2 separate regions of the Homo sapiens genome follow, and region 1 is linked to region 2. The links come from fine-mapping of genetic effects on plasma protein levels. A gene starts in region 2. The other region holds a variant in brackets. All regions are shown on one strand. Distances are between the middles of the regions. Region 1 overlaps LACTB2-AS1 (LACTB2 antisense RNA 1). Region 2 holds the start of LACTB2 (lactamase beta 2).

The links. A credible set is the group of variants that fine-mapping cannot tell apart. PIP is the chance, under the fine-mapping model, that this variant and not a neighbour inherited with it causes the effect. Protein levels are from antibody-based Olink assays in UK Biobank. Linkage for the fine-mapping came from a reference panel and not from the study's own genotypes, which makes the PIPs less certain.
Region 1: its variant is the best candidate, but not a certain one, in a credible set for the plasma level of the LACTB2 protein (UK Biobank, PIP 0.81).

What each region holds. Positions count from the first base shown.
Region 1 is chr8:70,611,504-70,624,252 of GRCh38, forward strand. All of the region lies in intron 1 of LACTB2-AS1 (LACTB2 antisense RNA 1), which reads left to right. Among named protein-coding and RNA genes, the nearest start is that of LACTB2-AS1, 9.3 kb to the left of the region's middle. RefSeq lists an enhancer at 6,042-6,121. The variant G/A (reference allele first, on the strand shown) is at 6,128.
Region 2 is chr8:70,662,925-70,675,673 of GRCh38, forward strand. It overlaps LACTB2 (lactamase beta 2), which reads right to left and starts at 6,261. Exons shown (of 7, transcript NM_016027.3): 1 at 6,075-6,261. The coding sequence starts at 6,196. It overlaps XKR9 (XK related 9), which reads left to right and starts at 6,415. Exons shown (of 5, transcript NM_001011720.2): 1 at 6,415-6,614; 2 at 11,894-11,975. It overlaps LACTB2-AS1 (LACTB2 antisense RNA 1), which reads left to right. Exons shown (of 4, transcript NR_038881.1): 4 at 1-355.

The sequences.
Region 1 (12,749 bases), 51 kb before region 2:
ATCTTTTTTTGTAGAAATGTCTATTCAAATCCTTTATCATTTCTAAGTTGGATTAATTTTTTAAAGTTTATTGAGTTGTAAGGGTTTAAAAATATCTATTCTATATGTCCATGTTGTTCTGTAATTTATTTTAAAAAATAAAAGATAGATTCTAGATCTTAGCAGATATATGATTTGAAAATATTTTCTTTCAGTCTGTCTTTTTACTTTCTTGATGGTTTTCTTTGAAGCACAAAAGTTTTTAATTCAGCAAAGTCCAACTTACCTGTTTTCTCTTTAATCACTTGCTATTGTTGTCCTATATAAGAAATCAGTGCCTAACCCAAGATTCCAAAGATTTACTCCTGTGTTTTCTTCTAAGAGTTTTATGGTTTTAGCTCTTACACTTGGGTCTATGAGGACTCACTTGTATTTTGTACATAATTTCATTTTAGCAATAATCATACTATCTTCTATTGTTTGCAAGTCTGTCTTCCCACTAGACTGGTACTCCTCAGGAACTGGGAGTTGTTTCATTTTTCCAGCTCCTACTACCTGGTGCTATACTGTCAAATATTTAGTGGTCATTATTTATTGAGGGAATGAAAAGAAAAAATACCTCACATAAATGAGAATAAAACCTTAAGATAGTTTAACCAAGAAACAAACATAAAAATGATATATGGCTCTACAAAGTTACTCATTTTAAATATATTTAAAGAAGACTTGCAATGCACCAAGCAAGTCCTGAGTTGTAGGATATAATTATTAACAAGACAGATTTAGTCTTTGTTCTTGAAACGCATACCTGGAATAGAAGACAGACAGTAAACAATGACCAATGTGATGGATATTTACAAAGAGACAGTGCAAGGTGCAGTAGAAGTGTTCTAGGTCATTTGGAAATGAATTGCTCTACTAATGTCAGTTTTTAAACTGAAATTGGTCCTTTCAAACCTTAGAATCTGGTGATTTTTCACTCCTTTGTGAGAAGACCACATTGGTCTTCTTTCAGCTGCTTAAACATATCATACTCTGGCCAGCCATAGGACTTGAGATGACCATTGGGTTTTTGTTGTTGTTGTTTGTTTGTTTGTTTTTGAGATGGAATCTCGCTCTGTTGCCCAGGCTGGAGTGCAGTGGCACGATCTCAGCTCACTGCAACCTCTGCCTCCCAGGTTCAAGTGATTCTCCTGCCTCAACCTCCTGAGTAGCTGGGATTACAGGCACGTGCCACCAGGCCTGGCTAATTTTTGTATTTTAGTAGAGATGGGGTTTCACCATGTTGGTCAGGCTGGTCTCGAACTCCTGACCTTGTGATCCACTCGCCTTAGGCTCCCAAAGTGCTGGGATTACAGGTGTGAGCCATTGCGCCTAGTGACCACTGGGTTTGGTAAGATGGAGGTTGTGTGGTTATGTTAGTTTGGGTTGTCCAGGAAATAGATGCCAAGAAGGAGTTAGAAGCATAAGAGACTTATTGGCAATAACATTTGTGAAAATTAAAGGGGAGGGGAGTTAACAGGGAAAAGCTTCAGGCTGTAATGTAGATCTGATCCCTGTGAAAGGAAGGAAGAAGGATCAGGCAGGAAGAGCCTCAGACTGAGGTGCAGCTGAGAAAGTTTTGGCCAGCCTTGTGTGTAGAGCTCCAGCACAGAGACTTCCCATTGAGGATTTCCACATTGGATGGAGATGATGAGTCCTTGGACCGCGACAGTGCCCTGTCATGCACTGTGGGCTCCTACCCTGCACTCTTGCTATCTTCCACAGAAGGTCCTGGCTTCTGTCAGGAGACCCTCTCTCCACAAATCTCTCTTGGGCTTTGGTAATTATCTGTCTTGCTCCTTCAGGGACCCTATTGTTTATAGCCTTGGGGTACTGCAGTATCATTTGCCGTTTCCTTACCCGAACCCACACGCTTGAAGAGAGTGCCTTTATACAAATTTCCCCAAATCATCCAATTTAAACATGCCATTTGCTTCTGCTAGGACCCTGACTCTTATGGAGTCACTAGTGACCTTTAAGACAGTATTTTCTTTGGAAATGGTAGAAACAAATGGCTGACTGGAGTGGGTTCAAGAGAGAATGGGAAATGGCAAGATGGAGGCATGAGTATAAGCAACTCATTTGAGGGGATTTCCCTGCAAGGGAAGGCGGAGTAATGGGCACGTGGTGAAGAGAGGTGTAGGGAAGGGTTTTGCTTTTCTTTTTGGATGAGCTATATTATGATGTATTTGCATGCAGATGAGAATGATCTATAAGAAAGATTTATTCTACAGGAGTTGCTTGCAGAAGCAAAGTCCTTGAGCAGCTCAGAGTTGATGGCATGTAGTGCACAGCTGACCACAGTGACAAGATAGGGTGCCCACAGCAACCAGATAGAGGGCAGAATTTAGGGGTAGGCTGATAATGGCAAGATGAAGTTGTCTGCTTCTGATTGTTTCTGCTTTCTCAGTAAAATAGGAAACAAAATCATCAGGAGTGGAGATAGTGTGATGACATTTGAGAAGAGAATGGAGGAAAACTGTGGAGGGTGAGTAGATTAAAGGGATGTAATCAGACAGCAGGGCCCACTTGAGATTTGGGGCCATACATTTAAAGCGAGACTAGTAAGCAGAGCCACATAATTTTCTCCAGGCATATCTCCCTGTTTGGATACAGGTATGGAGAAGGCAGAATTGGGCTTTGCCAGGCCAGTATGACAAAGGATGTGGAGGATGTGCAAGGGTGAGGGCAGGGGTGATGAAGTGAAGGCCATGAGGTGGTGGTCATGCTTGTTATACTGTCACCCTCTGCCCTGAGAGTCCACCCTTTTCTGCTGTGAAAGGCAAATGTCTGCAGACTGCAGTACTGGGGCTCCCTCGCCCTTGACTTCCCATTGGAATGGGACTGGAAGTCTGTGGAAGACACTAGCCAAAAAACAGAGGGTTTGGGGATTTCTTTATACTCCCATCATCCCTCCTTGCCTTACTATGGTTCCAACAGTGACTATGTTTGTTCTCCTGTGGCCACTGCCTGTGTCAGGTAGCTTTTCTGTTACTGTTTCAGCTCTAAGTGGGCTCCAGGGACCTCATTCTCTCCCCCGCCGCTTCAGGCTGTTGGTTGTAATAGCTTCCCATGCTCTTACTCCCCGCATACTTCACCATCCCTTGTTGGTTCATTCAACCTGCTACTCCTCTGTGAATAAGCCCTTCATTAAGTGCTCTCCAGCTAAATTCTTTTGAATGGGCCATCTATTCCTTGCCAGTTCTCTGACAGAGACAGAGGACAGAGAAATAGTGCTAGGGCCTCTGAATTGGAGGCACCTATGGGGCTGAAGAATTGTTGTGGAGGGGGGCTGGCTGAGGAGGAAGTGGTGAGAGAGTGGGATGCTGGAAATGATTTCAGAGGTTGTGCAGTCACTGGCAATGAGATGCACAGGGTAGAAAGGTGGGAGTGGGTAGCTGAGGTGAATGGAGGAGGAGAGCTTTGAGAGTGAGAAGTCAAGGCAGTAGGAGGCTAAGGTGCTCAGCACATGGATGCTAAATCACCAAGAATGAGTGAAGGAGAAGAATGGAAAGGGAGCCAGTGAGGGAGCTGGGCACTAACATCTGCTGCAAATGAGGAAGAGCCTGAGAGGATGGCAGATGATTGCCACAGGAGGGTAGTGGGTGGTGTAGTTTCAGGGCATGGACTTCCAGAAAAGCTGGGGTTTTTGAGCAAGGGAGGAGAATTGTCTGTCAGCAGCAATGAGGACCATGAAAGACACCCATTCCACCCCTAGGCTCTGTGGTATGTGGTGCGTGGGAGGGAAGAAACAGCCACCTCTTGAGAAGGCTCCAGGGAAGCAGGTTTCAGTTTTCAGTTAGAGCTGCCTCCAGGTTTCTGAGCGAGAAGGTGAAGAAAACATTCAGAAAGAGGCAGAGGGTGTTGGGGATTTGGTAGATGGCACACCTGGAGCTTTGGGGGATACACTGCAAGAGTTTGGGGGCTGCGAAGGGGCTTTTGGCTTAAGCAAAATAAAAGGATGAATAGAGCTTTGTGGGGAGGAGATTGTGGTGATGATGGATAACAATGGAGGTTTGACTCTGGAGGTGACTAAGGTGGAAAGAGTTTTGAAGCATTACAGAATGATCCTGAGGTCTTTTAGGGGAATGTGGAGGTTTAATAATAATTTTAGCTTCTTTTTTAGGATTAGCCTCTTAAGTTTATAGTGAAAGGTGGCTGCCATTAAATTCTCCAAGCGTAGGTCATGGTGGTGGGGAAAGTGGTCCTACCAAGACACATGGGCTCTGGAGGCCTCCCTTAGCAGATTTTTCGTTTTGTTTTGTTTTAGAATGGGGACCAGGCTGGTCTCAGAATCCTGGCCTCAAGCAATCCTCTTGCCTTGGCATCCCAAAATGCTGGGATTACAGGGATGAGCTATCCCACCAGGGACCCCTCAGGCAGATTGATTTCTTATGTGTGTTCAGCTCTGGAGGCCACATTCCAAGTAAGTTAAGACTTTGGCAAACATAGCCTGGATCCTAAAATTCTCAGGATTCTTTTAATGACTGTAGGACAGAAGGCAGCTTTTTGGGATTAGATCTATCCAGGAAAATTTGTGGTACAAGGTTGCTGTAATTATGAGAAATATAAAAGAACAGAAATATGATCTTTGCCCTCAATGAGGTTGTGTTTATGTGGCCTTACAAGACATGTATAAGAATGAAAAACCTGTTCTGAGATGATGTGAAAGTAGGTACAAGAAATTACCTAATAGAAATAAGTTAGAACTAAAATGGGACTGTTTGATTTCAACCTCTCCTTGGGGACAAATTGATGAAAAGTAAGAAACGAATGTTTGTTACATGCTTATTAAATTCCAGGCATTTTGCCTTTACATATATCATTTGGTCTTCACATAAATCTTATAAAATAGGTGTTGTTGTCTTTATTTAAAGACAGAGAAGCTGAGGCTCAGAGATGTTAAGTAATTTGCCCAAGGTCATAGGTCCAGGTATCTGTATGCCTGCCAAACCCATTCTTTTTGATGTTTTTTGAGACAGGGCCTCGCTATGTTGTCTAGGCTGGCCTTAAACTCTTGGGCTCAAGAGAACCTCCCAAGTAGCTGGAACTACAAGTGTGCATCGCTGTGCAGCAAAGAAACCCATTCTTGTCTCATGTAAACAGTCCTGCAGGGTCTGTACTTGCCAGGAAGACTCTGACTCTTCAGAGAGCAGTGATTCTCAATCTTATCTCATTGCTGATCTATTCAAGAGACTGGTTGCTGCCTATGTAGAAACACAAAGCCCATGAAAAAGACCCCAACAGATCATTTTTCTGTTTACATGCTATTGTTATATCATTTACAGTGAGTTTAAAAATATAAAATCGTACTCATCTGGTGAGAAGGAAATTGTATTTTCATGAGGAAGCAAAACCACTTCATTAATACTTGGAAATTATATGATTTCCTTGAGTATACACTTCGCTGCTATGGAAACGAGAAAACAAATTTATAAAACAGTGTTGCTACTAGTATGTAAGACTGGCAGGAGATGGCATGTCACATTTAGAGGTAGATCTGGCAATTCGGAGAGAGCTGGTTGGTAATGGCTACGAAGATTCTGTGACCCATCTGACCACTACTTAGGTGTCTCTCTAGGGGTAGAATGTAATCCTGTGACCTATAGAAGCTTAAGGAGCCCAAGCACAAGGTGGACTTTCTCACCCTATTTAACCAAGCACATCAGGGCCTGAGTACTACTTCTCTGATGAAAGAGAGCCCAGTTTCAGTAAGTGGTGAATGCAAAGTGAAAAATGGAAACAGGAAGTAGAGAGAATATTTTCAAGAAGTTTAACTTTGAAGGGGAGAAGAGAGCAGGGTGTGTAAATAAAGAGGAATAACGGAGTCAAGGTAGGTTTTGTTTTTGTTTTTTGAGTGATGTCACAGTTGAGCATGTTTATTAATAGATGGTAAGGAGGGGAGAGATGAACAGGCTGAAGACAGGGGGAAGAGGTGGGCAAAATGATGGACAGAGGTTTCTAAACTTTGGAATCCACTAGAACTTTACATAGGAAGGGACACTTCTTTTTACACCAAAAGGATGGAGGTAGGAGGAGAGGCTAGTAGAGACAGGGCAGTCACAGAATGACAGTGGATGTTCTTCCATGTGGATGGTGAACTCAG[G/A]AAGGGCACTGCAAGGAGAACTGTGAGCCAAGTTTCTGTTTTGAATTGTTAAAAATAAAAACTACAGGCAAAATACATTTAACAGAGTTTACTTGAACATTAAAGGTTTCACGAAGTAGGCAGCACTCAAAACCAGAAGAGGTTCACAGAATTGTGTTTCAGCCGTGTGAGCAGCAGGCTTTTATAGGCTGAACAAGTAAAGAAATTACTTGGCTAGGCACAGTGGCTCACACCTGTAATCTCAGCACTCTGGGAGGCTGAGGTGGGCGGATCACCTGAGGTCAGGAGTTCGAGACCAGCCTGGCCAACATGGTGAAACCCCATCTCTATTAAAAATACAAAGATTAGCTGGGCGTGGTGGAGCGCATCTGTAATCCCAGCTACTCAGGAGGCTGAGGCAGGAGAATCGCCTGAACCCAGGAGGCAGAGGTTGCAGTGAGCCAGGATTGTGTCACAGCACTCCAGCCTGGGTGACAGAGTGAGACTCTGTCTAAAAAAAAAAAAAAAAGAATTACTTGATTGGGTCCAGCTAAACATTTCCCTTATTTGGGTACAATCTGTTGGAAGTCCTTAGAGGTAAGTTGGTGGTTTGTGATTGGTTAAGCTTAAGTGTCTGTTTACTGTTTCTATTGAATTGGGTTTTAGTTTGTTTGTGTAGGAGCCTAAGGTGTTCATTGGCCTTATGACTGCCCAATTACTTATTTTTTTTTTTAATTTTATTTATTTATTTTTGAGACAGAGTCTTGCTCTGTTGCCCAGGCTGGAGTGCAATGGTGTGATCTCGGCTTACTGCAACCTCCGCCTCCCAGGTTCAAGCGATTCTCCTGCCTCAGTCACCCGAGTGGTTGGGATTACAGGTTCCCACCACCATGCCCAGCTAATTTTTATATTTTTAGTAGAGACAGGGTTTTGCCATGTTGGTCAGACTGGTCTCGAACTCCTGACCTCAGGTGATCCACCCACCTCGGTCTTCCAAAGTGCTGGGATCACAGGTGTGAGCCAGCGCACTCAGCCAATTACTTATTTTAACAGAATGAATGAGTGGAGAGTAGCAGTAATAAGGGCCCAAGGAAATATGTCAGCAGGAACAGGGTTTTTTCAGGCATAGGGGGCAGTGAATGGTTTGGAGAGGGAGAAGGCTATTAGCCCCACCTCAAGACATACAAAGTTTGACAGAGGAAAGATGTTCATTTAAGAGGGCTGAAAGGGATTGGTGTTTTGAGGGGAGAGCCTGGTATATAGTTAAAGCAACTGGTGAGAGGGAATGTTTGGTGCAGTGGCAGAAGTTGTAGGAAGTTTATTTATAATGGAATGAATTATATTAGTTATAACTCTTTTAGTTGCAAGTGACTGAAATGGGAATATAGTGAACCAAAAGTTAAGAGAGTCAAAAGAAAAGCTTCAGGAGCCAGGGTGCATTGTGGATCTTAGGAAATAGAACCAGGCACTTGACTTCATTAGATTCTCTCTCTACCTTTCTCTCTCTCTTTATTTTTCTTTTGTCTTCTGTTTCAGCTTGGCTTCACTTTTTCCTGTTGTAAATGGACTTTATTTACATGGCAGAGAACATGGTCACTTGCTGGTTCTATCAGAACAATTCCAAGGAAAGACCTAAAGTAGGCTGGTTTAGGTTGCATGATCATTTCTGGGTCAATTATTGTGGCCCATCTTGGCCACATGCTTTTCCTTGTGGGTAGGGTTAGTTTAGTACCAGAAGGTGTGGAGGAACAAGTACTAGACAAGTAGAATCACCGTTGATGTCCTAGAGAACATGGTGTAAAGGATCTGGAGGTACAGGAACAGTGCGAGGTGGTTGGATCAGGGAAGAAAAATCCAACAGTAATGTGAATGTTAGTGAATGAGAAGAATGGATGGAGTGACTTGTATTTGAGGCAATGGCCAAGGACTGTGGGCATATCTAGTAGGGTGATTTCTAAAATAATTTCAGCAATCACAGATAGAGGAAGGACTTCAGTTTGAATTTGTTGTACTTTCAAGAGGGTTCTAGTTCTTAGGAACAGACAGGAAAATGGTGACAGGTAATTGGTTCCTGGGAGGCTGGCACATTCTGGAGACAGCAGCAGTTTCTGGGGATGCTTCATAAGGCTATTATGCACTGACATCTGCCACGGACCACCAAGTAGAACATTTTCACCTGATGAGAATTAAACATTGACAACATCATTTTGTGCAAAATGCCTTCCCCAAATTAGAAGGACTTATGCCTCAGGGAATTTGTGACTGATGGAACTGAATAGATATCTTGTAGCCATCAAAAACTGGTGTGTGGCTCAGTGCCTAGTAGAACCCAGGTCTTGGGGTGATGGCCAAGGATTCTTTGGAGCTCCTTCCTTGCTTGCATCAGTCCATGTGTTCCAAGACAAAGCTTATGGCACAAATTAAAACTATAACATATACAATTCTTTGCAGTTCCCAAAGCGCTTTTGATACACATTACTAATTTTAACTTTATATAAATCTAGAACATAATGTTATCCCTGTTTCAAATGAGGAGATAGAGGCTCAGAAAAATAACTTAAGGTTTTACAACTAAGTTTTAACTCCCAGGATGAAGAATGTGAATTTTAGCTTATAAAATTATGGTCAGATTATACTAAAGACTAAATATGGTACTTTGTGGCAATTAATTGGTATAAGTCAAAGTGAAATAATCATAAGGGAATATGTGAATGTACTGTTAACAACATCAAAATAAAATTAATATTTATTGGATGCCAAGCACTATGCCTAACACTACAAACTACTTATTTAATAGTGACAACAACTCATTGAGTCAGATCCTATTACCATTGCTTTTCTACAGATGAAGGCTGATTAGACAAATATTACTAAACTGTTAATACCACCACCATGATAAATGGAAACAGGAATAGGCTGCATACAGGGAAATCAACTAATAGTAGTTGATTTTAATTAGGAAATGAGCACTAGGCTAGGGAAAGAAGAGAAAGGAATAAATCCTTGAGTCTGTCTAAGACAAATGATAGGTTTTCTCCCTGTGAAGCAAACCACTTTTATTTCTTAGGCCATTTATCCCTCCTTCTGAGTATCACTTATACCAATCAGCATTTTCTTTGGTTTTCGATCTGCCTTCAAACTACATCCTCAAATTGTAGCATAAATATTTCCCAGTTAAGTGGAGTGGGGCTAAAAAGAAACAAAGGTGACAAAGGACTAATTCAGCTTGGGACATGGGAGAATGGTAATGCCATTTACCCACATGGTGTGTAGGGAAAGGGAGGTAATCAGGAAATTGTTCAGTAAGCTGAAAAGTTTGGTTTTAGGTGCACTGGGTTTCTTCACATGCATGTCTGGTCTTTGGGAGACAGCCAAATAAAGGATCCCTACAGACAGCAAAAGATTCAGGCCTGGGGCTTTGGTGAGTGATTCAAGCTAATCACACATTTGGAAATTATTCAGCATGGTGGTAATGTTAACACCACCAAAATGGATTAGCTCGTTGATGTGGTGAATAAAAAGAAAGAACAATGCATTTAGTCTTGGGGGTGTCCATATGAAAGAGGCTTAAGGGGGATCAGGAATTTAATTACGTATCTGTCATTTTAATAGCAAATTTCAGAGTCCTTTTCAAATGATAAGTTTCCCATAGTCTCCATAAAACTGAATGAGGAAATTTTTAAAAGTCCATAATATTCTTTTACTCTATAATCCTAGTAACTTATTTATTTTAGGCTTAAATGCTATTGCAAGGAATGTGCTGGTCTAAAAGACAGTACTATTAGGTTATTTCCTCCCATTTTGAAATGTATTAAAAACATACTAAATGAGCCAAGTAATATAATAGGGAAAGAAATGGAGAATAATTACATTAAATAACTGAATTCCAAGAATAATTGCTGTAAGACTAGCTTCCAGGAAGCCAAGGCAAAAAGTGATCATGGAGAATTAACTAGATATTATCCCATGTAGAGTTTTGGAAACATGGCTAATTATCAGTATCACAAGGGCTGTCCCTCACCAGGAGAGTCCAGTGAATGGTCTTACAGCTGAGAAGCTGTGTTGTTTTAATTTAAAAGTTCCCCAGGAAATTCTGAGAATTAATCAGATTTGACAAGCACTACTCTAATAAAGGAAACATAGAAGTTCACAGGAGAGACAAACTTTTTTTCTAGCTCTGAAATCAGAAAGAGATTTTGTTCCATTGACATTGAAGAACATTCGATAATAAAACAGACAATGTCCTCAATGGAATTTAAAAAAAACAGGTAAGATTTTATCTGTCTATTTTTTTTATTTTTAATAGAGACAAAGTCTTGGTGTCACCTGGGCTGGAGTTCAGTGATGCTAGTTGTGGCTCACTGTAGCAAACTCCTGGGCTGAAGTGATCCTCCTGCCTCCGCCTCCCAAGTAGTTAGGACTACAGGTGTGCACCACCATGCCCAGCTAATTGTGCCTGGCTAATTTTTAACTTTTTTGTAGAGACCAGTATCGCAATGTTGTCCAAGCTAGTCTTGAATTCCTGGCCTCAAGCCAACCTCCTGCCTTTTGCCTCCTAAAGGTCTGGGATTGCAGGTGTGTACCACCACACTCAGACTTATATGTCTGTGTCTTTATACTGACTTTTGACAAAATAAAAGCCACCAACATAATATTAAATTACAATTCTGTTGCTGTAGTAAAAGAATCATCTGGGCCAGTTGAAAAAACTGTACTCCTTTGGGGCCCAGAAATTTGCATTTGTAATAAGCCACCAATTGACAGTGATACAAATGGTCCAGGAACGCATTTTTACACTGAGAGAATGGATGGTTAACAACAGTCCTTAGCATTTTAGGTTTAGATATCAAATGTTAAGGTATACCATTTGTAATAGACATTTTCACCATTTTTGAAAACTGAAGCAGGGTTAATCTACTTCTATAAGCTGGGAAGACTTCTGTGGTATAAAACCAGAACACTTCTGGTAAAACTTTTCTTCAACACTCAGGAAAATATTAAAAGCATGGGTTGCTTTATATGCCACTAGAGTAGATATTAGTCTCACTCTAAAAAGAAGAAATTCATACTCAATGGATTAAAACCTTTTAAAATCATGGGATAAAACATGGGAAAACAAATTTACTAGTCTTTTGGTAGAGATGCACTTTACTCAAAACATTAAAGAGCCAAAGACATCACTGTGTTAATACAACCATATGTAATATAAGGTCATATATATGGTCCTGAATTGCTGCAACCCAACATATTTGGAAACATCTGATTTGTAGCAACACGATTTTCAAGATTGGTCTTTATTTTCAAATACATCAGGAAAAAATATTCTTAAGGGGAGTGCTTCTTTGTGGTCATAGTCATCTCATACTTCTTAAAAACACTAGTAAAAATAAGTAGGGGAGTCTGCCATATAAATGTTGCATTCCTACAGATTTAGTAGTAACTTGACCACACACAGAGAAAATGTGGTGTTGGCTGAAGACTGAGGGATAGAGGCAGGGTCCTTTTTCTCTTTACTAGTTATCGAATCTAGTTACTAGTTACTGAATCCTAAATTCAAGTCAACTCTCAGTGAGAGAAACTTGAACTATCATAGATTTTTTAATACTCTAATATATTGTGACTAAAAAACAAAGGTGGGATCTACCATAGACATATAAATAGCACCCTGCTGGATTCAGGTAACTTTGGATCTAGTTCCCTTTAGATGGTTTTCATACTGCAGTAAAGGTCATAGAAGTCTGAATCCAGTTCACCTTAATTCTCTAGGTCCTTTAGTCTAGATACTAAGTGCAGGATTTCTTTTTAGGGAAAACTTTGTACTTCAGAATAGCATCCATGAAATAATATGAATTTGAAAATTCCTATTTTTAAACCTAAGTGAGCAATAAATAAGCATGTACCTTTCGTTGTTTCCAATTCCTGATAGCTTTTGCAGGATAAAAATTCTAGGGCAAAAATGCTTATTCCACTGAACTAAAAAGTTGGAACCCATCCATTGCATACTATCAGTATTTTGACATTAAAAATTTAAATTTTTACCAAACTAATAAATAGACGTAATTTAAATATTAAATAGTAACAGCAGGAAAAACATTTCTCCATTCTCTCTCCTCCCAGTCCCACACTTCCCAAAGGCAATGACTAAACTCTTTTAGACATTTTTTTCTAGTATTAACCAATAAAACACTTCTACTACTTCTTGATTTGCCAATTTTAGGCTTTATTGACTTTCTATTATCATAGGTGATGATTTAGTATTCTTAACTTCCCACTTCCTATCTCCTGTTATCCTGTATCACCATTTTTTGGTCAGTGTTTACACTATTTCCTAAGAAAAGATGCAGAGGCAGAAAGTATTTCATGATTATTTCCTTCCTTGCACTACTTTAGTTTTCTGGAATAAACAATTGTCTCATATTTTCTACCTGCGTAGTTTTCTATGAACTCATTATTTCAATTGTTCATCTAGAGCTGTTGTATGACCACCAGCAGTTTTTTTTTACCCCCAGTGCTCAACTATATCAGATAATATATTGGTTCCATTTTTCCCCCTGGAGATCTCTCTCTCTGAAGCTCCCCCTTCCTCCCGCTCCAATCTGGAGAAGGCTCTGGGCACACCTTTGTCTTATAACTTCCTCTTGGC
Region 2 (12,749 bases):
GCAATCCTCCCACCTCAGCCTCCCAAAGTGCTGGGATTACAGGCGTTGAGCCACCATGCCCAGCTCAAGATCCAATTCACAAACTTCTTCACTCATACTGTTTCACAGTAACACCTCAATAATTCAGGCTGGCTGACAGATTAGCCTTGATGAAAAGTCTGAGTTATTCATTAATTGATCAATAACTGTTTATGGATTACCTAATATGTGCTACAAATTTGTTTCTTGCAGTAAGCAGGACACAACAACCCTGCTTACATTCAACTGTTGGTGAGAAGGGGAACTGCATATGACTGGAAATAAACAATAAAAGTAACATACCATAGAAAGCATTTTGCAAAGCATTAAAATTAAACAGTGAGTAACTGGATGGTTATTTTTTATTGGTTTGTTTCCCTAACCCTACTCCCTGAGACCCAGAGCCAACAAAAACAAACTGGCCTCTCATAAGGGAGGAGGGTAATGGCCTCATAGCCCATTGGCTTCTATCTGCACCCTATGTTCTGTAGCACAGTAGATGTCCTTCAGAAACACAGTGTTGAACTGTCCTATCCGGAGACAGGAGACCAGATGGTTACACTGGACCAAGAGGGCATTTATTATAGGGTTCTGTTGGTAGTGGAAATGTAAGGAAGAGATGGCTTTAAGAACATTTAGAAGGTACAATCAACCAACCACCAGGATATTTGTTAAACAACGAGATGTGGAAGGAGGGAAACAGTTGGCGACTCTGAGGTTTCTAGGTGGGAGGATTGGTGTGCCATTAATCAAGAAGGTAAACCCTGGAGGGAGCAAATTTGAGATGAGTTTGACTCGGGTCAGAGTGAGTTCTGATGCTATTCCTAGCCATCTTATCTTGCTTTTTTTCCATAGCAATTATTACCATGTAATATATTATGTATTTACATATTTATTTTTTTATTGCCTATTTCCACAACCAACACCACCGTACAAATTTGAGTCCCTTCAGGGCAGAAAGCTTGTCTGTTTGGTTCAAGGAATTTATGGATTTATTTCTATATCCATAATACATTGTACTGCACTTAGCATTGTGCATATTTAGTTATGCTAAATTAAAATACACAAGACTATAATACTATGATACCTCCAATAATACTCTCTAGCCCACCCATCCTAGATTTTGGCTGCCTCCATGCATTTGCAGTTATTTACCACAAATTCTCACTGCCCCTAACGTAGAGTCACTGGGACTATTTTTGTGGGTCTTCTGGTCCTCACAAAAAGAATACTTCCATGCTTCAGGTAAGGCTCAAATTTTTTCAATCCATCAAGGCCCCACCACTTTTAAAATTATTTCTTAATCCTTGCCTTCCCGTCCTCCCAAGAAACTCTGTTTTGAAATATCTCCTAATCTAAAAATGAATATAAATTTCTGTAATTTAATGACCAGATCACATCACACTGATCAAAAGTCATGACAAAATTAACAGGGTTGATACATGAATTTGATAAAATCTAGTAGCAAAGAAAACAGATCTTTTAGAATGCCTGTGCTGGTTGTTTGCAGGTGAAAGTGTGAGTGACCATACGACTGTGGTAGTGGAGAACATGTTTCTGGGGCTCCAGTTTTAGGTCTCTTAATGGTCCTGTCTTGGTTTAACAAAATTGGAATTGATAAAAGAAGGGCTCTCAAAAGAAAGAAAACAGAAAAAAGTTCTGGAATTAATACAATCTATTCAGAACAAAGGAGGGGTGTCTAGATACTATAAAACCTAAAACATGAGTTTGCACCAAGCTTTGAGGGAAAAAAAAAGTCACACTGATAACATATGACATTGACATAGCAATTTAAACCATTTGGGGCTTTCATATTTACTATTTCTTTTGATCCTCATATCAACTCTAGGGAGGTATTATTACTTTATTAATTATTTATTTTATAGAAAACTTATCTTCAGAAAGGCTAAGTGATTTGCTCCAGGTCATATAACCAGCAAGAGGCAGTGCTAGGAAGCACTAGATGTTCAGATACAAGGTCCAGTGACTTCTCCATTCAAAACACTGCCTCTCTAGCAGAAGGGGATTGCTTAGGTTAAGTGCTTAGAATCATTATGTGGCAAAAATAAAACTTCAGCTATACATTTGAAAAAACTGTTATCAGTTTTGAAATTGAAAAAAATGTTATCAGTTTCTCCCTTAGCAAACAGTTACTCTATCAGTGATGTCTGTAAATAGTTATAATAGATGATTGGATAGTATCATCTCTACATGGGCTAGTTGACTTTGTTCTTCTTGGCCACAGATAATAATATCCCTATCTCAGGAGGTCATTTTGCAAATGCAAATTATGCTAATGAAGGGCTCAAGGGAAGAGTATGGATGAATCTGTATAGGTCTATGAACGATTTATTCACTAGAGCAAAGTGCCTGGCACATAGTAGGCACACAATAACTGTTTGCTACATGAATGGAGAAAAAAATTTTTAATTGATGGAAAATTAGTAGAATCAAATTCCTTGTTATAGGTATTTCATGTCAATATTAAGATAGCTATTAACTGGTCTCTATTTGCTGTCACTCTTATAAAATCATTAGATATTTTCTGAACACCTACTATGAGCACAGTGTTATCTAGATGTTATGAGGAAAGCAGAAGTGATAAACATAATGGCTAACATGGTATGTTTTCCACGTGCTAGAACTTGTTAAGTGCTTTTCATATACGTTTTTTCACTTAAATTTCACTGAGCCCTTATAAAATCCAATGAGGTAGGTACTACACAACCTTCATTGGGTTGTATCAGGAATCTGAAGCTTAGAACTGTCTTGTCCAAAGTCATATGGCTAGTAAATGGCACCAGGATTCTAATCGAGGTAACCAGAGTCCAGAGTTTTAATTCTATTCCACTTGACTACCTTTTTCTATTATCAGCCACACTGTCTGCCCACAAAGTATGTACAATTTTGATAGGAAAGGTTAAAATTGCAGTTTTTAAAGGTTCTTGAGCAGAGGAGGAAAGTAAAAACACTGGACAATTTGGCTGTCATTTGTTGATTCAAATGCTTATTGAGTACCTATGTACTAAGCATCACAGTTAGGTCTAGCAGTGTTTTAGTGAAATTCATTTGGCTTCCATGGGCTGATCAGATGAGGAAGGAAGACCAGCTAAAACTGTAGTTATCCAGCAGTTCTGGAGTCATAATAGTGAAAATTAAGAGAAAATGTACAGAATGCTCATTCATTCAGCAACTGTTTACTGTTCTACCTGAACTGTGTACAAGGCTCTGTGCTAGGTGCTGGGGATATAGCCATGAATATGCTTTCACTGAACTGATGTTATAGTGGGGTATGAAGGTGTGGAAAGACACTAAGCTTCTTGCACAAAAAAATCATTTCATTATCATTGAGATAAGGACCATGAAAAGTATGGAGTGTCCCTAATACAGTCTGATGGGTCAGGGAAGACTTCCATGAGGAAATGGTATTTAAACTGTGCTCTAAAGGATGAATGAGATTAGCTGGGTAAAGAAGGGAGGAATGAGTGGAAGAAAGAGGAAAGCATGCGTGAAGGCCCTGAGACAGGGAATCACAAACCTCATCTGAGACACTAGAAGGCCAGCATGGCTGGAGTGGGAGAGGTTTGAGAGGAGCCTGATAAGACTGATGGAGGCCAGAATACACAAGGCCTTCCAGTTTTAATTCCTAAAATACCACTCAGGCTACAAAGGGAAGATTGGATTGAAGAGAGACAGAGGTAGTCGTACAGAAGCCAATTAGGAGGCTATTACAGTAGCCTAAGCAAGAGTTGTGCTGGCTTGGACTGAGTGACAGCAGGGGACATGAACAGATCTTCATAATGGCTTGGATATGCAGTAGGAAGCAAATAAATGTCAGGAAGGGTATTTAGGCATTTCCTTTGATGGCTTTGTTTATCAAGATATGAACAACTGAAGGAGGACCTGGCAGTTTTCTGGAAAGGTTATGAGTTCAGTATGGAAAACACTGAGTTCCAGGCAGCAGTGAGTCATGCAAATAGATTTAAAAGTTGGCTACTTGAGTCTGAAGATCAAGTTTGGAATTTGAACTTGAGCTATATATTTGGTAGTTAATAATAAACAGATAATAAAGGCAAAGCCAAATAAGTAGATGAGATCACCTAGGTAGAGAATACAGTAGAAGAACATGAGAGATGAGGATTATATACTGAATAACTAAAATAATTAAAGATTTGATAAAGAAGATGACTCTATCAAGGTGAAAGAGAAAGAGCAGCTCAAGAGGTAATAGGAAACCTGAAGAATGTGGTGTTGGCAAATTAAGGAGGGAGTCGTCAATGGTGTCAAAGCACTGAAGTTCAAGGAAGATGAGAACAGAAAAATACCATTGGGGTTAGTGATACAAAAGCCGCTTGTGATCTTAGAACTGTTTTGTGAAGCGGAACAGGTGGATACCAATCTCAGAACATCTGACAAGGGGCCAATTAATATTAACTTCTAGCCACCTTTTACTTTACACCTTTTACTTTATACAGTAGCATTATCTACACTTATTTCTAGCTCAACTATACGGACTCTCTAGTTCAACTATATGGAGAAATAATTTACATAGTGCAAGTAATTCCACTGGCCATTCCACTCCATTAATTTATGTGAGCAACAGTGTTAAGTAATTTAAGACGAGAGACTATAAATCTGCTTTTCCCTCAGTTAGTCTTTAAGTCTCTCTTAGCACTAGCACTTTGCTATGTTGAGTGTGATTATAGTGTTTAAAGATACAGTATGTATTTTTCATACAATATAGCCCCTCAACACAAGCCAATTTCTTCACCTGGTTTTCAAACAGAATCAGCCATCTGTTTCAACGCTGGAAAAAAGGCAGGTTGTGCTGAACTTACTGAGACAATACACTGATCTCCAACATGGTGTTCTTCTAAGAGACTTTCCAGGGTAATTCTGATAATATGCATCTTTTGTCTGAGGTATTGACTAGTTCAAGATGACACACTGTAGAGAGACCGCCTATGGATTTACTTGGTTGAGGGACTTCCAGCCAAGACAGACTGTACCCTAGAGATCTGGCATTTTTCCTGCTTAATTCTCTATCCTCCTAGATTCTGGTGGCAGCCTAAACCTTTGGTAACTACCTGACCCTGCCTTATTTACTCTGAACTTAATCTTTTACCTGCCCACTTTGCAGGTCTGCTGCTTCTAAAATTCTTATTTACTGGAAAAACGCCAAACAGTAGACACTTCCAAGGAAAACTCAATTAACTGTACTTACTAAATCGTTTTTAGTAATCAATTATATTTTAAAAATAATTTATGTCTTGACTGCACAATTAAATTCTATGCTCAAGAGAAACTACATTATCTGGGTTCATCCAGTAAAGACTACAAAAGTTGCTAAATGCCTAAGACTTACTATGCAGTAAACCAAATCTCCCATTCCTGCATAATTCCACTAAAACAGAATGCAGCTAAACAAGAGCAAAAGTATCTTCTTAGAAATACAGGTGTGTTACTGTGTCTGCAAATTAAACTCAAACAAGGTCACACACAATTGTAACAAAAAACTTCCCCAAATTACTTATGTCAGCTCCTCTTATGAGCCCACAGGCTGCAGAGAACCAATTTGGAAGCCAGGAGAATCCTGCCCTCTGCTGCTGAGTTGAGGAAATCGCCTCAACATAATTAATCGCTTTTGAGAAGGGAAGTTACACTCTGGGCAAAACACCAGTGAAAGTCAAGTGAGCAAAGTAAACGCTTTCTTGGACTCTTGACATCCGAATTTTCTCAACAGTTTAAACACGCACACCCTGGCATTCAAACATCAAGAACAGTAAATCGGGTTTCAAAACAGAAGTTTTTTTTTTTTTTTTTTTTTTTTTTTCCATTTCTCCCTAAATTAGAGAGCTATCACCTGGGGTGGTCGTATTTTAGCTAGCTTCGAGATCCGAGTGTCTGCGTGCAGTCCCGACGGGGCTGCTAGGCGCGGGGCTGCCCAGCTAGGGACAGGACGCGGCGCTCTCCACTGCCCGCGCAGCCGCGATCAGTCAAAGCCCGGGCTCCGGGGCCGGCTGCGAACGTTGGGGAGGTTGGAGAGGGACGTTTACCTGGGGCCGGTCCCCACTAGGTAGGTGTTGGTGCCTTGGAGGGTCATGGGACCCGGGTTACAGCCCAACACACGCACGACTCGATTGGACAGCCGCTCGACGCGCTGCAGTACAGCAGCCATTCCCGCCTCAGCCGCCCGCCGGCGTGTCGCCTATCTGGATACTCCAGCGCGGAAGAAGCCAACAGGCCGGGGATAGCGAGTAGCGTCCACGTGATGCCTCGCAACCCGGGAGGGAGGGGATTGGCCAGCGGCTGGTCCAGGTGTCATGTGACACCGCGGACGAGCCGGGGCGGGGATCCGGCAGCTAGGCCGGGGGGTGGGGGGGGCGGTGCGGAACTAGAGGTCACGTGACGCCGCGCGGGCTGCGCGGGCAGTGGTGGGAAGGCTGGCGCGAGGCGTGAGGTGGCGTGAGGCGAAGCTGGAATCTGCCTCTGTCACGGGGGCTGGTGCCTCACGGGTTTGTGTCCTAGACAGGCGAGTGGATCCAAGTGGGCGAGAGACATTTTAATCTGGAAGAGTCTTGTGATTTGGGAGACAGGTTTGGTAACCGTTCGTTATTCAGTAATAAATGTCAGGAAGGATTGCCAGATTTTTAGGCAGTGGCTCTGTGTGTGTGTGTGTGTGTGTGTGTGTGTGTGTAGTAGTAGTAGTAGTAGCCTGTTCATTTTTTTTTTTTTTTTTTTTGAGACGAAGTCTCGGTCTGTCGCCCAGGCTGGAGTGCAGTGGCGCGATCTCGGCTCACTGCAAGCCCCGCCTCCCGGGTTCACGCCATCCTCCTGCCTCGGCCTCCCGAGTAGCTGGGACTATAGGCGTCCGCCACCACGCCCGGCTAATTTTTTGTATTTTTAGTAGAGACCGGGTTTCATTGTGTTAGCCAGGAAGGTCTTGATCTCCTGACCTCGTGATCCGCCCGCCTCGGCCTCCCAAAGTGCTGGGATTACAGGCGTGAGCTACCACGCCGGGCCAGCCTGTTCATCTTTTATAATAAATAGTGGTAAGACATATTTACTTAGTACTTCCTACTATGCCTAAGTGCTTTCAACAAACATCCGACTTAACGCCCTTAATCCTCAGAACATTATTAAGAGGTGGACACTATTTTTGTTACAAATGAAAAACGGGGATTGGGCAGCTGCCCAGATGACAGAGTCTGCGTGTGCGGCCTTGCTCCTACCTGCCTCGCACTAACACTTGTCCCCCTCAGTGAGATTCAAGGAGCATGCCTCTGCCTGCCAGTGTTACCTGCCTGCCCAGAGAGCTAGGCTGGTCTTGTGGAGCCGTTTTGTGCCCAAGATGGAAGGGACTCATTTTCTCTGTAACAAGTCGGTTTCTTATCAGCCAAGTATTAACTATCCAGTGTTAACTACAGCTTCCCATAAAAAAAGTTGAGTTATAAATTACTTAAAAGAAAATACACAGATCCTGTAGACAGTTCCATCGAGTTATGACAATTGTATGTAATCACTGCCCCAAAGAGATGTAGAACATATCCACTGTAGCAGCCCACTCTTTTTTTTTTTAAAAAAAGGTGAGAAATTGACACATACAGTGCTTGGTGGCTTTTTTTTTTCCAGATATTTCTGATGAAGAAAACGATCTGCTCTTACCTATTTTATGAATCAGCAGCATAGTGTATCAGAGTGGCTAATGACATCTGCTTTGTGTGTGAGAAATGTCTTTGCCTTGTTTCACACAGTTGTACTTTTAATGGAAAAATATTCAAAAAATCATCGCTGAAATAATCATATAAGTTATCCCCTGTTGCAATGGGAAGTTAAACAGTATACCCTTCAAAAAATACTTAAAGTAACCAAATCTCCTACATCAGGCATTTCAATCTGTCAATATGTATTTATGATAGCCATCAATTAATGGCTATTCAGGCAGGAGGCTTTGCACATCTTCCCTTTTTAAGAACTCTGCTGGAAAGTCAGTGAACCCTGGAGAAGAGGATGGAACAGTAATTTCTGGACCAGATTCCTGAGAATCTGGGCACTCCCCTTCTTTTATTCTTTGGCTTAATTAATTTCCTTACTTAACTTACTTATTTACTTACAGGGTCTGGCTTTCACCCGGGCTGCAGTGCAGTGGCACTATCATAGCTCACTGTAACCTTGAACTCTTGAACTCAAGCGATTCAGGTGATCCTCCTGCTTTGGTCTCCCAAAGTGCTAGGATTGCAGGCTTGAGCCACCATGCCTGGCTGAGATAAACTTTTTAGCTCCCACGTATGAATGAGAATATGTGATATTTGTCTTTCTATGCATGGATTATTTCACTTATCATAATCTCTAGTTCCATCCATGTTGCTGAAAATGACATGATCTCATTTTTTTTTTTTTTTTATTATACTCTAAGTTTTAGGGTACATGTGCACATTGTGCAGGTTAGTTACATATGTATACATGTGCCATGCTGGTGCGCTGCACCCACTAATGTGTCATCTAGCATTAGGTATATCTCCCAATGCTATCCCTCCCCCCTTCCCCGACCCCACCACAGTCCCCAGAGTGTGATATTCCCCTTCCTGTGTCCATGTGATCTCATTGTTCAATTCCCACCTATGAGTGAGAATATGCGGTGTTTGGTTTTTTGTTCTTGCGATAGTTTACTGAGAATGATGGTTTCCAATTTCATCCATGTCCCTACAAAGGATATGAACTCATCATTTTTTATGGCTGCATAGTATTCCATGGTGTATATGTGCCACATTTTCTTAATCCAATCTATCATTGTTGGACATTTGGGTTGGTTCCAAGTCTTTGCTATTGTGAATAGTGCCGCAATAAACATACGTGTGATTGTTTATCTAGAAAACCCCATCGTCTCAGCCCAAAATCTCCTTAAGCTGATAAGCAACTTCAGCAAAGTCTCAGGATACAAAATCAATGTACAAAAATCACAAGCATTCTTATACACCAACAACAGACAAACAGAGAGCCAAATCATGGGTGAACTCCCATTCACAATTGCTTCAAAGAGAATAAAATACCTAGGAATCCAACTTACAAGGGATGTGAAGGACCTCTTCAAGGAGAACTACAAACCACTGCTCAAGGAAATAAAAGAGGAGACAAACAAATGGAAGAACATTCCATGCTCATGGGTAGGAAGAATCAATATCGTGAAAATGGCCATACTGCCCAAGGTAATTTACAGATTCAATGCCATCCCCATCAAGCTACCAATGACTTTCTTCACAGAATTGGAAAAAACTACTTTAAAGTTCATATGGAACCAAAAAAGAGCCCGCATTGCCAAGTCAATCCTAAGCCAAAAGAACAAAGCTGGAGGCATCACACTACCTGACTTCAAACTATACTACAAGGCTACAGTAACCAAAACAGCATGGTACTGGTACCAAAACAGAGATATAGATCAATGGAACAGAACAGAGCCCTCAGAAATATGATCTCATTTTTTTATGGCCAAATAGTATTTTATTGTGTGTATATATCACATTTTCTTTATCCATTTGTTTGTTGATGGACTTTTAGGTTGATTTCATATCTTTCCTATTGTGAATAATGTTGTGATAAACATGCAGGTGCAGTTGTCCCTTTGATATACAAATAGTAGTGGGATTGCTAAATCATATGGTAGTTCTGTGTGTGTGTGTGTGTGTATTTTATACATCTCTGTACTGTTTTCCATAGCGGTTGTACTAATTTACATTCCCACCAACTGTGTATGAGAGTTCCTTTTTCTCTACATCCTCTGCAGCATCTGTTATTGTCTTTTTAATAACAGCTATTCTAACTGGGGTAAGATGATATCTCATTATGGTTTTGATTTGCATTTGCCTGATGATTAGTGATGTTGAGCATTTTTTCATATGTTTGTTGGCCATTTGTATGTCTTCTTTTGAGAATCGTCTATTCATGTTCTGTACCCTCTTTTTGGTGGGATTATTTGTGTTTTCTCTTGTTGAGTTTGAGTTCCTTGTATGTTCTGGATATTAGTCCCTTGTCAGATGAATAGTTTGCAAATATTTTCTTCTGTTCAGCAGATGTCTCTGCACCCTGTTGATTGTTTCCTTTGCTGTGCAGAAACTTTTTCATTTAATATAGTCAAATTTGTCTGTTTTTATTTTAGTCGTATGTGCTTTTGAGGTCTTAGCTACAAAATCTTTGCCTAAACCAATGTCCTTATGTATTTTACCAATATTTTCTTCTAGTAGTTTTATAGTTTAAGGTCTTACGTTTAATCCTTCTTGAGTTGGCTTTTGCATATGATGAGAGACAAGGTCCAGCTTCATTAGCTTTTTTTAAAAATTAAACTTTCACTTGCACTTTCCTTCTGGATTCCATTTAATCAATTGCCAAGCTCCTCATTTGGCAGATGAAGGAATAGGCCAAATGATTTAAAAGTAAGGCAACTTGCATAGGGCCATACAAGGAGATACTAGAAAAAGAGTACAAATAGAAGGTAGATAGTGACTATGTTTTAGATGAGATAAAATTGAGGTAATTGTGGTATATCCAGGTAAAGAAACCTATGGACAGTTAGATATATTTTTTGGTCGGGTGTGGTGGCTCACGCCTGTAATCCCAGCACTTTGGGAGACTAGCCTGACCAACATGGTGAAACCCTGTCTCTACTAAAAATACAAAAATTAGGTGGGCATGGTGGCGGGTGCCTGTAATCCCAGCTACTTGGGAGGCCGAGGCAGGAGAATCACTTGAACCCAGGAGGCGGAGGTTGCAGTGAGCTGAGATCGCGGCACTGCACTCCAGCCTGAGTGACAGAGTGAGACTCCATGTCAAAAAAAAAAAAGATACAAAATTAAGTCTTTGTGAATATGTTTAGAAATGTGACTTGAAGTTTAAGTTCCTCTCCAAGAAATCAGATCAAATATTTTTCACGTTCTGTTCAGTTACACTTACAATAGTTTATTATCTACTTACAACATGCAAGGTAATGTTGTAGACATATTGAGGGCATGTTAAAAATGAATAAGATAATCTTTGCTTTCTAGAGGGTCATAACCATGAAGGAGATACTTTTAAAGTATATATGGGTTCAGGTATGGTGGCATGAGCCTGTAATCCTAGCACTGTTGGGAGGCTGAGTCTGGAGGAGTGCTTGAGCCCAGGAGTTCGAGGTTATAGTGAGCTATGATTGTGCCACTGCACTCCAGCCTGAGTGATGGAGCAAGACCTTGTCTCTTAAAAAAAAGCATATGTGGGTAAATACTAGAAGAGAAGTACAGCTGAAGTGATGAGATTGCAAGGAGAAAGGGGAGAAACATACTGGGATGATCTGGGAAAGCCTAAAGATGGTGGGTTTTGAGCTGATTCTTAAAGGATTGACAGAATTTCATCAGATAGATGGCAGTTATTCTAGACAGCAGTAAATAACCTTGAGCAAAGGCTTGGAAATGGAAGAAAAGTAGTGCTTATTTTGGGAATACAGACCAACAATCATATGCTCTTTGGGGCACAAGATTTGAGAAGGTATAAGGTTGAAAAGTAGGTAGGGCTGAGTTTATGATACTTTGTTAGAGTACTTCAAATTTAAGAACCTCCTTTTCAAACATGACATGTTATCCATTTGGATATGTTGTGAGACAAATTGTATTTTCTTGACTTATTTGACAAATACAGTGAAAGCTTGGAGCCTAGTCAGCCTATGAAAGGACCTATGCTATTTCTTCCTCTCAATGAGATAGTTATAAAAGGGTGTACTGTATTCACAATGACACAGACTCTTATCACTAGATTAGAAAATGCCACATATGACTAACAGGTGATTTCAGTTTCATTTTAGTATTCGATCTTAAAGGTTTACACATCCTTTAATTATACTTGTTTTTAGTGAAGAAGAAGTAAAATATTCACAAGATGAAGATTTTTCCAGAAGGGACTTTGAGTCAAAGATGGCTTTTTATATTTGACAAGTAAGTCTATGTTTTATATGTGTTATATTTGGTTGACAAGGGAAAGTTTCCTAGTTTTAATTTCTTTAAATATCTGCTTTATCTCAGATAGTTGTACAGTGGGCAAAAGTTACGTATTTCGGCTCGCAGCCAGGTAGCCACATAGCTAGGTTGATATTTGGAATTGGATTGAAACCGTTTGTGTTAAGCCATTCTTGCATTGCTGTAAAGAAATACTTGAGACTAGGTAATTTATAAGAAACGAGGGCCAGGTGCAGTTGCCCATTCTTGTAATCCCAGCACTTTGGGAGGCTGAGGTGGGTGGGTCACTTGAGGTCAGGATTCGAAATCAGCCTGCCCAATATGGCGAAACCCCGTCTCTACTAAAAATACAAAAATTAGCTGGGTTTGGTGGTGTGCACCTGTAGTCCCAGCTACTTGGAGAGGCTGAGGCAGAAGAATCACTCGAACCCACTGTCTTTGATATTAGCACTTGGCTCCCTTTTAGTTTTGCAAATATCTTTAGCAAGTGGTTGCTGTACAGCCTGCTTAAAGTCCTCTTCTGAAGAAGCTTTTTCTTTCTCTCTCACCTGGCCAGGCTGCACATTTTTCAAACTTTTATGCTCTGCTTCCTGTTTAAATATAAATTCAAATTTTCAGTCATTTTCTTGCTTCCACATCTGGGCATAGGTTGTTAGAAGCAGCTGGTCCATGTCTTGAATGCTTTGCTACTTAGAAATTTCTTCTGCCAGGTACCCTAAATCATCACTCTGAAGTTCAAACTTCCATAGATCT